2 linked regions of the Homo sapiens genome follow. The protein of the gene in region 2 interacts with the protein of the main gene of each other region in a pairwise test. Each region holds a gene or a part of one and is shown on either strand. Other genes may lie near its edges.

The links. Proteins that work in one complex are often made in the same cells at the same time.
Region 1: the proteins of SORBS2 (region 2) and FAT1 interact in a two-hybrid assay, tested with the Homo sapiens proteins (one study listed by BioGRID).

The regions. Positions count from the first base shown.
Region 1 is NC_000004.12:186,587,818-186,594,856, forward strand, and holds part of FAT1 (protocadherin Fat 1 isoform 1 precursor), read right to left. Parts: intron 2,587-7,039; coding exon of another isoform or gene 2,551-2,586; intron 1,404-2,550; coding exon 775-1,403; 3' UTR 1-774.
Region 2 is NC_000004.12:185,585,180-185,592,218, forward strand, and holds the end of SORBS2 (sorbin and SH3 domain-containing protein 2), read right to left. Parts: intron 6,898-7,039; exon of another isoform or gene 6,726-6,897; intron 4,607-6,725; coding exon 4,500-4,606; intron 4,051-4,499; exon of another isoform or gene 3,975-4,050; intron 3,012-3,974; exon of another isoform or gene 2,746-3,011; intron 2,510-2,745; coding exon 2,448-2,509; 3' UTR 344-2,447; downstream 1-343. UniProt on the Homo sapiens protein: Adapter protein that plays a role in the assembling of signaling complexes, being a link between ABL kinases and actin cytoskeleton. Can form complex with ABL1 and CBL, thus promoting ubiquitination and degradation of ABL1.

The sequences.
Region 1 (7,039 bases), 1.0 Mb from region 2:
GTAAGAAAGACTGGCTAATGGTAGTTTTCATTAAAAACCTTTACAAGACCATTGCATCACAAATATACAGACACTATAAAAACTGTGTCATGGTGGTTTTGGTTCTAAACAGGTATGCAGAAGGTCCCCGTTACACTTTCCAATAATGAAAAATGTTTATAATTCTAAATACAGCAACCCATGTAAGACATGTTCATGTATCTGATCTCTCCTTCATCCTATGTACAGCTAGAAATGAATGACTACACTGAAATGTACTAACAAAATGTCACACTTCAGTGGAAAAAGACAGAATGAAACCCTGGTTATAGTAAAAAAAAAAAAATCAGGGTGCTAGATAATGGCACTGACACCACCAAAATTCAGTTGAAACAAATGCACAAAATATCTTGGAAATCTAGTTAAAACTATGAAAAATCAAATCTGTACATAAAATTTACAAAAAAAAGAGACAGGAAAATTAAAATAATCAAATCTATATAAATACATGAATCATGCTGACAACACAGGACTGATTTTTCGTTTGATTATTTTAACACAGACAGATGTAAATCCCAAAAGACGTTGGGAAATGGCACAGCCGATGAAAACCTCACGATGACAGTAGTTGGGACACTGGAAATGGCTAGCACGTCCAGAGGCGCAGGATCCAGCGCAGCCATGCCCATTCGGCTCACCAAAAAAAGCTTGGAAGCACTGCTGCAAAGAACAGCGCGGATTACTCACATCACCTCTAGGTTCACTAAAGTCAGGCACTTTGGGGGGAGTTGAGAGTCAGACTTCCGTGTGCTGCTGGGAATCCAGGGGCGGGATCGTCACCTCTTCGAAGTGGCCGTCGTCCCCGCTCTCATAGTCACTCATCATGACCTCGGACTCCACTTCGCAGCAGGCTGACACGTCAGAGCAGGAGGCGGTGGAGGCGTACACAGACATGGGCATGCTCTCGACAGCGGGCGCCTCGAAGTGTCTTTGATACCCTGGCGGGTAAGGGGCATGGGGTTCTCTACAAGTACTATTCTCACCAGTGCCTTTTGTTTGAGGTTCAGACATATCGAGGGGATAAAAATTGGGCAAATACTGATTCAAGTTGAACCTCTGCCGGTTTCTTGATGAAGAACCCAAGCTACCCGCGGCAGGCATGTCTCTAGGAGGGTGGATGGATTCAAACTGATTGCTGAATTCGGGCGGTAACGGTGGTAGCTCATCAGCTGCGGGGAAGTCTTCTGGGGGTGGAGGAAAATCACTTTCGATGTCGTAGCCTCCAGGGTAATAGTCCGTATCGATGGCGTTTGGATCTGCTGAGTACAGGGGTGTCTGCTCATCAATCACCTCATAGTTGGGGAACTCTTGTATGTCCGGCAGAGGAACGCTTGGCATCCAATCTGATGTATCCCAGTGATACCCTTGGTGGAAAAGAAAACAGATGTCAGTGTGTTTTCTCCTAAGCTTTTGTGCCATGGAAAGAGAGCTCAGTGTATCAAAGACACAAAGATGCAACCGCATTTATGCCTTCATTCAAAGTTCACCACTGGAAATTCCTCGTCTTTGCTTTGAAGACATCCCCCAACCCACTCCAGTTTAAAGACCCCTATGAACTAGGCTCTAGTTCTAAAATGTGGACTTACAGTTTTATGTACGCAACTAACATTCAAGGAAACAAAAGGAGTCCTAAGAGAAATGGGATGCTAGCATCTAAATTATATACATTTTTCTACAAATGATTCTAACCATCCTTCTGGCTTTTCTTCTGTAGAACCCACTGCTCTGTAGGAAGAAGAGTACTGATCCAGTCTCAGGACATTAGTGAAATATCCAGTGTCACTTGATCTGCACTACTTCTCATTAAAAAAATACTGATTAATGCAACTTAAAAAAATTTTGCATTTCTATTTTTTATAGAGACAGGGTCTCACTATGTTGCCCAGGCTGGTCTTAAACTCCTGGCCACAAACAATCTTGCCAATTCAGCTTCCCGAAGTGCTGGGATTACAGGTGTGAGCCATCAGGCCCAGCCAATGCAACTTTTTAAAGTAATAAAAGTAACCTTTAACATGCTAAAGTTTAGAAAATAAGCTTCCTTCATAATAATGTAGCAAGTTTAATATTAAAATTACTATTTTTCATTAACCCTCAGACAACAAATTAACTTAATATAGGTATGTATCAAAGCATGCCAATTCAAGCAAAATACAATTGAACAAGCGTTGCAAGATTATAACACAGCCTCTGATACACTGTAACAATCAATCTGTGTTACTTCCAAAAGGACTGTGATCCTTTTAGACTATATAAAGCACCACTATTTTAAAAAAAAACTTCCAATTTTGGAATAGTTTTTTTTTTTTCCTCCTTAGGATTTAAAAAATCCTTGGAGAGGCGGGAGAAGGTTAGGCAATCCGTGCTTCAAATGCAATGCGCACACACATGCAGCCGTGTACTTAGTTACTGCTGCAAACACTGGGCGACCCAGCGTAGTCAGTCAGCACTGGGGCAAGGCTTGACCCATTGTTTTTAGTGAGTATCAATGAATAACTGGCATGCATAAGTCACCTCTTGGTTTGCTGAGGTCAGGAGCAGCCAAAGATTCTTTTGGTGGCAGAGTAGAAAAAAAAGAAAACATTTGTAATTAAAACAGTCGGCTGAAAAGGCAATAAAGGTAAGTACACAGAACAATGAAAACTGCTTACAGAGGCCCAATCAGCCATACAGCATGTCCTTACGCCAGTATCTATGACAATTCCAAATGGCTGAGAAATGTATGTACCACAAATAAAATGGAATATGGAAGTGGAGGAAAGTGACTGCGGAATGAGGAACCAGAAATTTGGCCAGAAAACTCAAATATTACTTTCTTTTCCTTGTTTCTGACAATCACAGCCTGAAAACACAGAATTTCCTTAGGAATAATGAAAACAAAACAAACAGGCTCTAATAAAATATAAACTGATCAGATTACATAGGTGATAATCCAAATACATCTACAGCTACATAATGCACACACTTTATAGCACACTGCAACTTCAAAGGACATTAAATTCAGAGGAATTCATAGGCAAACTTAGATACTTAAAGACAGATGTACAAGCTGAAGATCTCTCCAAACTGTATGTATTTTGAATATGCTTTAATATTGACACTGTGAGCCATTCCCTAAAGAGACCACGGCTACACTTACCCCATGTCTGTAATTACACTTGCCCTGCCAGGGCCCCGCATCTATACACAGAAGCCCAGCAGGAAGTGTAACCAAACGCATGTAAATCCCACTATCAGTTAGGGCCATGAGACGCCTGCCCAGGCCCTGGCTAACCTTCAGGTTCTCTCTTTGAAATGGGGTGAAAATCCGTTAGAGTTGTTATGAGGATTAAACAGGATCATGCAGGTTAAGCACTGTTAGAAACTATCAATAACTGTGAAAGTAGACATCACAGCAGAAAAACGGTCACATCCGTGATTTTTTAAACAAGGCTTTCTATGCATTCAACAGTGTTATAATTTGGGACAAATATTTGATTGATAGTTCACTTCTAGAAATTTCAGTAATTTTAAAAGACTGTGGTGTCTCTAAAACATGAATACGCCGGCATTTAGGTAACATGTATCTACAGAATCATTTTTAAGTCTAGTAACAAAAGCAGCAATTCCTTTAAACAAAAAAAGATCAACAACTTTTGTTACGTAGGCACTAGTAATAGCTTTCAACTTTAAATTCCATGTGCACTTCTTGGATATGCCAAAAAATATTTGTCAATGAAGGAGACTGCAATGAAGGAACTGTTGAAATTCTGCTTCTATAAGCTTCAATAATATTTAAAATGCTGAAGGTCATCAGTTTAACACTAAAACTTCACTAGACAAAATACAGGTATGTTTCTGATTTGCCCAGTGAAAACATGGTACTTCTTAGGAAAAGAAGTGTAGGCGTCATCAGTAACTATAACCATGAACACTGGAGTATCTAAGCCTCTTCTGCCTGATAGCAAATGGGGCCCAGAGCTATCCTCCCTCCTCCTGAACCTTGACAGCATCATGTCCTAGCATAAAGGATCCCCCGAACTCTATGATGACGTCTGTGTACTCGATGGCCTCTGTAAGCAGTTCTCGAGTGGGATCTCTAGACCGGCACCATCAGAGCTACCTGGGAACTGGTGAAAAATGCAAATTCTAAAGTCCCAACCCAGACCTGTTGGATCAGAAATGCTGGTGCTGAGAACCAGCAATTGGGCTTTTAACAGCCCTCCAGATGATCTGATTCACATTACAGTTTGAAAAGTACTAGCCTGTGTCTTCCCCATGTGATGAATTTCAGTGCACTAATAAAGGGCTATTTTAATTTAAAATAATTTGGGGAAGGTGCTCAATGTCCTTTCTTACAACTCTGAGCAGATAAAGCTTCACATTAAATAATTTTCACTAAACCAAATATGAAAATATTCTTTTACCATGCTCTACACCCTTTTCTTTGATCATACTCAGGGAAAAACCAAAAGTGAAGAGTCAGTTACAGGTTAATTATGAAAGCTTTACATTATTCAAGTCTTATTCCTGTACATACGAAGAAGAATTTTTGTTTCAAAAAAATTTTAGGTAAAATTACTTCTGAACTTTTTCTTGATTGCACCACCTACAGATAAGCTCTCCAGATCTCATGTAAATCACTATGAATGGTAAAAAGGAACAAAGACATAACATACATTGAGATATTTTTTGCAAAGCACTCATATTACGTATATACACACCTGCATAAAATAAAAGGACTCAACCCCCTCAAAACCACAAACTGTTTTTTCCTACCATTGCAATAGCAATGCGGCCGAGCTCTACGACACGGCTGCTGCAAGACACAGACACAAGCACGAGCACTTACAACTGTACCTTCTGTGCTCACCGTGTCAACCACAGCATTGACAAGGTGCATTACGGTCACTATGGAAGCTTGCAAAAAGGTACAAAAGCAGTCAATTAGGAACATCTTCAGTTAGTTAGAAAACAGTGCATGAAATAAAGTTTTGTATTATACCATTTCTACCTCAGATTCCAACCGATGAGTGCTTTAATACAACCACATAATGATGCGTGGTCTCCTCACTGTTAGCTGTGTGTCTCAGAGACTTTTTTAATCGAGCTATATATTTGTTATTATTAATCAAAGGAATAACGTAAACATATTTTATTGGAATTTAAACAAAAAAACTTTTAGCTTTAAATTTTTTCACAATTACAATTATGCATCATGCCAGGCCAAAACGATTCTTATTTTAACATCTTACAGGCAAGACTCGACATTCCAAGACTACAGTCTGTGGTTCGCCACTCTTCCGGCTGCTTAATCACTCACACATTGTCCCCCAAAAAAAAGAAATTGAAGGAGAAACATATGCAATCTAAAACAAGAATGTTTTTGTCCCTGTTCTGATTGCTTTCCCTGCAAATTTCTCGTCTGTTTGCAGATGGACTAATCGCTGGTGAGCTAATGTACGAGTATAGGAGGAGACTCTGTCCGTCTGTTTCCTGTGTAAATTCCCTTTTCATTTGTGTATCAGATTGTTTTAAAATAACTATGCCAAGGTAAATATGTACGCATGTGGTAGGCAGAAGGCTGGCCCTCAAATAGTCCACGTCCTAATCCCAGGAGCCTGTGAATATGTCACTATACATGGCAAAAGGGACTTTGTTGACGCGGTTCAGATAAGGAAATTGAGATGAGGGATTTCCCTGGATTACCTGGGTGGGCCCAGTGTAATCATAAGGGTAACTTTTCTGCACAGAGGCGTTCCCAGTTACGGCTGGGGGGAGCTCTGCTGACAGAAGGGTGGTCAATGAAACACTGTGTTGCTGTCTCTGAGATGGAAGAAACCAAGAGCCAAAGAATGTGGGCAGCCTCTAAAAACCAGGAAAGGAAGGAAAACAGGTTCTTCCCTCGAGCTGCAGAAGGCAATGCAGCCCTACTGATCGCATGACTTAAGCCCTGTGAGACACAGGGGTTGGGCTTCTAAGCTACAGAATGACAGCAACACAAGTCTACATTGTTTTAGGCCACAAAGTTTGTGGTAATCTGTAATGGCCCTGGAAAACCGGGAATACGACGCAGGAACAGACTCTCAGCAGACTTTCAGTTTACAACTGATAATTACATTATGGTAATGAGTAAAATAAAAACACTCCTGTATATATGTTTTTTCTCTGCATTGTACTATCTGGAAGCTAGTTTTCATAACTAATTTGACCATAACTTATTGAAAGCACTTGGGACTATTTTTTTTTTTGAGACAGAGTCTCGCTCTGTCGCCCAGGCTGGAGTGCAGTGGCGTGACCTCAGCTCACTGCAAGCTACAACTCCCGGGCTCAGGCCATTCTCCTGCCTCAGCCTCCCCAGTAGCTGGGAGTACAGGTGCCCACCACCACGCCCGGCTGATTTTTTTTATATTTTTAGTAGAGACGGGGTTTCACTGCCAGGACGGTCTCGATCTCCCAACCTTGTGATCCGCCCGCCTTCACCTCCCAAAGTGCTGGGATTACAGGCGTGAGCCACTGCGCCCGGCCACCTGGGACTATTATTAAGAAGACTGATGTTCCAACAACAAGAACTAGAAAGAAAATGCTGATAAAATTCTGAAATGTATTTATAAAGAGCATTTAGGGGCCAAGATATAAATTATTACATAAACTGGAAACAGGAACTTCTTAGAATTAAAATTGATAAAAGACATAATTCTATCTTGTTGGTTTAACAAGCAAAGCTATGTCCATACACCCTATTCCTAATCAACACAGGTATATTTTGATACCATATATACGGTATCAAAATATACCTGTGTTGATTAGGAATAGAGTGTGTATATATATATATACTTGAAAGTATATATATATATATATATATATACTTGAAATCAGAAATGATAGCACATACTTATAGCTATCTTTAGTTTGAAAAATGACTGCAATAGATAATGACTATATGGATTTATGGACTATATGATGTATTATGGACTATATTACTCTGGATTGAATAATTATTAGTGGGGTTACCTTTTCCCAC
Region 2 (7,039 bases):
AAGCTGCTTAGGGCAAAGATTTTAAAATTTCAGAGTGTTGAACTGGGAAAGTGCTTACAACTCCTTGTAACTAACCCCTCCTTGGAAAACTAGCTGTTTTGAGGCAGAAATATTTTACAATGTATTGTTTTAACTGAAGGGCAATTTTTAGCCAAAGAACGTTTAGCAAATGAGCTTTGGTGGTGGGTTTAAAAATATTTCTTCTCTGAGCTGATGCTGACACAGCTTTTCTCCATGTTTGTGTTAAAAGAACACACAACAAAATGCATTTTCTCTTAGTTTAACAAGTTGGAATAAAATACACAATTTTTATAAAGATAAATGTCAAGAAGAAAAACTGAAGTATACTTCCAAGCAAAATTTATTAGATGTCTATTCAAGAAAAACACAATGACCTTTGCTTGTAAGAATTCAAAGTCAATTACCTGGAAGCCAGGTATGAATAGTTTTTTCTTTTAAAATCAGATACAGAGAGTAGAAACAGTAATTTTTCTTAAATATGACAGGCAACAGATATTGAAGTCTTTTCTCATAAATGGCATCAAAGAGAATTATTCATTTATCAGCAAAGCTGCATGCAGTTGACTTAATTTCAAACCTGAAGCCTTTAAAATATGAAGCTGGTTATGAACTTGACAGAAATCAAGGTAGGCTACTCAACGATGTTTCTTTACCTTCTTCCTAATGAAATTCCCTTGTCATCAGTCAGTAGATATGTACATTTCATTTGGCTTCTACGATCTTTTAACTTCATAGATTTTTGCATAAATGCTATCTGACAGAATCACACTATCTAGGGGTGCTTGTGATCTGTGAGATAAGGAGAGGCTAGTCTGCTGAAAGTGTTGTCGCAGGATAAAGACCAAATTAGGAAACGCCCCTGTTTTCTCAACAACTAGTCTGTACAAAAAAAGAGCAAACATATGTACAAAATTCTAGAGGCTACGTACATTGTGAAAAGATCAATATCACTGTCCATGAAAGAGATGCCATAAAAAGTTTTATCTGTAAGGTGCTCAAGATCCAAAGATGAACAGTTCTTATGCAAAGTCATAAGAAATACAAAGCTAGTTTTCGGAGCAGGTGTAATTCAGGCACTGTGAACCATATTAAACCTTCCAGGTCCCAATATCATTTTTTAAATTTCTGCTTCAGGGCAGAAAATAAAACCTGAATGATTTAACATTGCTTCTAAAAAGTGCCTAATTTATTCCTAGGAAATATTTTACACACACCAGGAAAATCAGGCTCAACATATTCCTGTCCTCAAATGTAGCCAGGATTCTGAGTTCCATAGAAGAAAAATAATTATTATAGTAAAAATAATTGTAGTAATCCTAATCCTTGCTAAAACCAACTTTAATACTTGTGATGCTTCTGTACTCTATTTCTATAAAATAATGTGTGAGATTCTATTACATTTCCATAAAATGTACAACATATCATATGGATTATATGTTCTCATACAATCTCAAATGTGTATGTGTACACACAGTGAAATCTTACCTACTAGTATTGCTTACAGATACTTTCAGGTGTCTGTTAGAATAATTCTTTGCACCTCTCACTAACACTGCTTTTACTTACATTTTTTCAGATAAATAAAACACTAAGAGCTCATTGTTCATGATGCTGATCATTACATTTTAATATAAAATAGCGATGCAACTTTACAACACAATAGTTTTCCCCTGTAGCCTAGCTCAGCCTCTTGTATTGTCATGATTATTACCGAAGGCTTTTATTTACTTACTGTTTGCACTTCTAAAAAATGCAAACAAATTGCAGAAAAAGACTCCTATTTGAAAACTCACATTCAATCAGCAAAATCACACTCATCCAAATTAACTCGCCTCCTCTTGCTTTAAAGGTTGTAATCACTGTGCATATTACAACATGTATGTGCAGGCAAACAATAGCTAAAGTACAGTTACAGTTGTCATATTGTGTAAACCAAGACACTAGGCAAACTTGTGAAAAGAATACACACTGCCAAGCGAAGAATATGAAAATGCAAACCACAGCATTCCCCAATAAACAATTTTCTGGTCGTCTTGGGGGAGAACATCGCCTGGGGGGAGATGTTGAAATGGAGCCACGAGGCTGGACAGCCTCCTGGAGACACTTTTTTTTTTTTTTTTTGCCTCAAATATTTGACCATTTTTAAATATCATGATTTTTTTCTTTCTGATCCCACATTTTGACGTGTCAAAGCTTAGAGCAGGAAGTAGGAATCCACACTTTCACGGAGGGGGACCAGCCTGCCATGTCGTCCCCAGGCTCACAGCAGCGGCGGCTACTCTGCTGGTGGTTTGGTGGCAGGTGGAGATGGTGACGGCGCATTGGAAACCGTAAGGCATGACAACGGGAGGCCCGCGGGGTGTTTCAGGCGCGTTGACGCAGGTGCATGGCTGGCAGGCGGCCTCTACAGAAGGAGGGAGCGCAATTCACAGCCTCTTGACGTAGTTTCCGGGGAAAGTACCAAAGAATTTGGTTCTTCTTGAGGTCCCTGAAAATAGAAGCGAGTCATGAAAGGGGGGTGACAACGATATCAGTTCATACACATGGGCTTGAATACTTCCCATTTACAAGGCCTCGGAAGACAGCAAGCCCCGAGGGGTTTGGAAAAGAAGGCAGGCAACTCACATGAAGCCCATAGGCAGACAAAATAAGCAGTGTTAGCTGGTTGCCTGACGCTCTCACTGCCCCTCCGGCATAAATGCTGCGCTGCCATCGCGGCAGGCTAAACAGAAATGCTGAGCCTCCCAAGCTAAAGGGAAAGTCAGCCCTGCTGAGGAGGGGGGCGGAGGAGCTCAGTCACTGAGGCTGCCACACCAGAGTCGGGGGTGAGGGATCAAGGCGAGGCTGACAGGTGACAGGGTGAGTGGAAAATCCTAAGAGCAAAGCTTCTCAGGGACCAGCAACCCGCGCAACACAGGTGCGACATGAAGACATCATCTGTGGCAGGCTGTCGCTGTTCCAACAGTTTTATCATCTTACAGAAGATCATGGTCAGTGCCACATCATTTATTTAAAAACAGCACTGCCAGAGTCCTTCATCGAGTATACAATTTTTCAACAATTTACAAATCATTAATGAAAAAAAGGATTAAGCACTATTTGTGTGTGGGAGTTCTATCAGTGGCATGATTTTTAACATGGTGTGTGTTTAACCACACGCACAAATGGCTATCATAATTATGTTCGCCTCTGGTTTCAAATAATGTAATTCCTTGGACACTTCTTGTAAAAGTTGGTGCACTAAATTGCTAAATTCTTCTTTAGGCAGCGCAGATGGACCGGATAAGGGTCTCTCAAGCTTCATCTGTCTCCTATATCCTGGCACTTACTGCCTTGGTTTGATGGCTGTTTTTCTTTTTCCTTGGCTAGGCAAGCCATTTTACGTTTCTCCTCCCTCCTCCTCCTCCCTCCTCCTCCTCCTCCTTGTTTTTGAGATGGAGTTTCGCTCTTGTCGCCCAGGCTGGAGTGCAGTGGCATGATCTCGGCTCACTGCAACCTCTGCCTCTTGGGTTCAAGCAATTCTCCTGCCTTAGCCTCCTGAGTGGCTGGGATTACAGGCACCTGCCACCAAGCCCAGCTGATTATTGTACTTTTGGTAGATACGGGGTTTCACCATGTTGACCAGGCTGGCCTCGAACTCCTGGCCTCAGGTAATCCACCCGCCTCGGCCTCCCAAAGTGCTAGAATTACAGGCATGAGCCACCGCACCCGGCCTTTTTTTCTTCTTTTAATGGAAATAAAATCAGAGGCTTGTGGCCGCACCAGGGCCTCAATTCTTTCATGATTTTGCCACCGATGGATGTCTAGAGTGAGCCCTCCTCTCCTCTCACCTTTCCTCTCTTCCATTCTCTGCCCTGCAGCCTGTGTTTCCTTTTCACCTCTTTCTGTGGCCCAGTGTAAAATACTTTTGTCTACAAATGTTTTCCCAGAAGACCTCTCGTCTTTTTTTTTAGGATGGTAAAGATGAAGTTGCCTTTTAAGTGGGAAGAATGGAACGTCTCTCTGCTTCCACCACAAACTAAAGTTAAGGTGAGTCACTGAATGTTCGGGCATCTACGTCAGACCTAGGAAACGGGAGAGCTGTTCACTTAATCTCACTCCCTCTGAAATTAGATTCTCACTGTGGACAACTAACATTTTCCACAGCACAGAGCGTTGATATTTCTCTTCTGGGGACCATTTGTTGTTGTTGTTCTTAGATCTCAATCTTTCCTGGTTTTTGCTATTTAAAGAAATTGTCTTCTCTCAGTTGAGTTGGAAATAAAGCTCGCAGAAAATCACACATAGCTGAAGCAGTGAATACTAAACTATATTAAAAATGCAATAGCCTTGGGATTACATTGTGCATATGAATGTCTGAAAGATCAAAGGCATTACGAATTCAAAGGAAGCTCGGCCATCACAGCAAACCACGGGAGTGAGCAAACTCAAGCAAATTACAAAATAGCCGAAGGTGCCTGAGGAAGAAGCGCACATACCCACAAACCAGCCGTCATCACACTTTTCCATGACATCAATGACATCACTTTCTCTGAGCTCCAGCTCATCTTCATTCCTGGGAGTATAGTTATACAGAGCCTGAAACCTTAAACAGGACAAGGGAATGTGTTTAAAAACATCTTGACACCTTCATGAAATATAGAAGATAGAACAATATTCATTCTTCCTTTAACATTCCTATTCTTAACAACATTCTGTTGGGTGGTACAAGCCTGGTAAGCATGTAAATAGCATTCTATTGGATGGTACAAGCCTGGTAAGCAGGTACATAGCAATATGTAGATCTTCACAGGCATTAGAACACTCTAACAACATTTTGAAACTCACGAGGAATATCCATGAAAATTGTAACATTCATAAATTGGATTAAAATATGTCAACATGTATAAGTCAGACCCGCATTTCAGTTGTCCAGCCATCTAACGTCTATCATTTAGACATTAAATAATAGTACAAAATATAAAATAAGTGATATTTGTATTATTTAACTGTTTAAAAACAAGAAGGAATCACAATTTTAGCTAGCCATAATCAGAAGCAAATAATGGGGGCTTGAGAATTGAATTTTCAAAGGTTCTAAATGGAGATAGACAAAATGTGTCAGACATGTCTTTTTAATCACTCTGTGTGAATTACTATACAAAGGAAAATTATTTTTTTTACTAAGAGGAATTCTTTAGATCAGTTTAATGTTATGGTTTGGATCAGTGTTTTCTGAGGATGTAGAATTGGAAGATTTGATGTAATTAGCCTATGAAGTTGAGTAGATGTATTCTATGTGCAGTTATTACTGATTCCATTTCAAGCAGACTATGGACATAAGTCTCTTTTTAAAATGAGTCCCAGAAAAATTGTATTTGATTTTAAAACTCTCTCTTGAAATAATTTTATATAAAAAAGAATTATTGATAGAATGCTATCACTTTCCTTTCCCGGCCTGAATTCTTTGACAGCATATACTGTGGTGGAAATTGATCAATAATGAATTCAGACACTGAATTTGTGGTAAGAAAACACCATACATTATAATAAATAGTAACATGGGCTGGTGTTTTTGGAAAATGAAGGCGAAATTACTGTAGCTGAGAAGGTCAAGAAGAATTTGATAGGCAGTTAACATGAAAACTTCTTCATAATAGTACTAAAATATTACCAGTACTGTGAGGGGGTTTTTAAAAATTGGGAATTTGTTTCTGCTGCTTTCTGTAACAGTCATGTCATTCTGCTAATGTGAGAAAATAATTACCACTTTCTAGGGTATTTTAGATTTTTTCATGCCAACTTAAAAAAGTTGATAATCTTGACTACCGCTCCGGAACAAGAATGATTTATTTTTAATTACTTTATGAGTCAGAAAATAATATTTTGGTAGAACAAAACTATTCTATCATTTAAACTCAAATCTTATGTCATTAATAAGCAACAGTGACCTACTGGCTTCCCCCCGTTCATCCAGCATTTGGACTGGGGGAGCTGGATAGAGTTGGCTTCAGAGAATGCCTAACAACATCCCCTAGAAAATATTGTTTTCCCTGGCCTGGCACCAAAGCCTGAAATTTCAACATTAGAGGCTTCTTCTCCTGTTAAAACTTCATCCTTCCAGTAGACCTTACAGCCACTTATATCCTTTTGAGCATGGGCTTCTGAGGCCTTTTCTTGAGAGAGGGGTTTGTGATTATGGGGAAGGGCAGAGAAAGGCAGCTAGCATCCCAGAGTAGTGGCCAAAAAGACAGGCAGGTGTGGAATACAGAAACGTCACCTGATTTGGATGTTTGCATGTGGCCAGCTTTGCTAGGGGTAGTCCATTTATTTTGTTGCTTGTGTAAAGAATTTGATTTGGAGGCTGCTCAGGTGAAGGGGTGGTATCTTTTGTGTATCTGTGGGGAAAGTTCACGGTCCCTTTTCCAGTTTCACATTTGAGAGAGATGGTGGTTCCTGGGCTGCTGTTTTGATGGATACACACGGCATTTCTCACTTTGGGAAAACTGATTCTTTTATTGAGCTTCTCAGGCTTGAACCCTGCCCAGGCTCATCTCCACCCACTCATGGAGACCGGTTACCTAAGGCTGCAAACCTCAGCTGCTGGAAAGAATCTCAAGGTCTCAGAGCTAACGCAACAAAATTGGCACAGACTCCTGCTTCATTTTTGTCTGATGAAAGCCAGCATGTTTGTCCAAATTTATTTACCATTCTGGTTTAATTAGACCACAGAAACAAAAACAAAACAAAAGAAAACCCACGGAGTTTTATGGAAACGTAAACACACCTTCAGGAAATCCTCCTGCCTCTCCTGGCTTTCAAAGCCAGTGTTGCACAATGGGAAATGAAGACAAATCCAATGTTAAAAAATGCTGTTGTGAAAGATGTGTTGGTGAGGTGAGTGATGGTGGTGGGGTAAGGATGCCTCAAAAAGAAAGGTGTCTTTTAAACAGGAAATGCTGAGCCAGACTGGAAGCCCTCTCGATAACTTGCAACTTTTTCTAGAACATATTTCACTAAAACTCTGAATTGTAGTGAC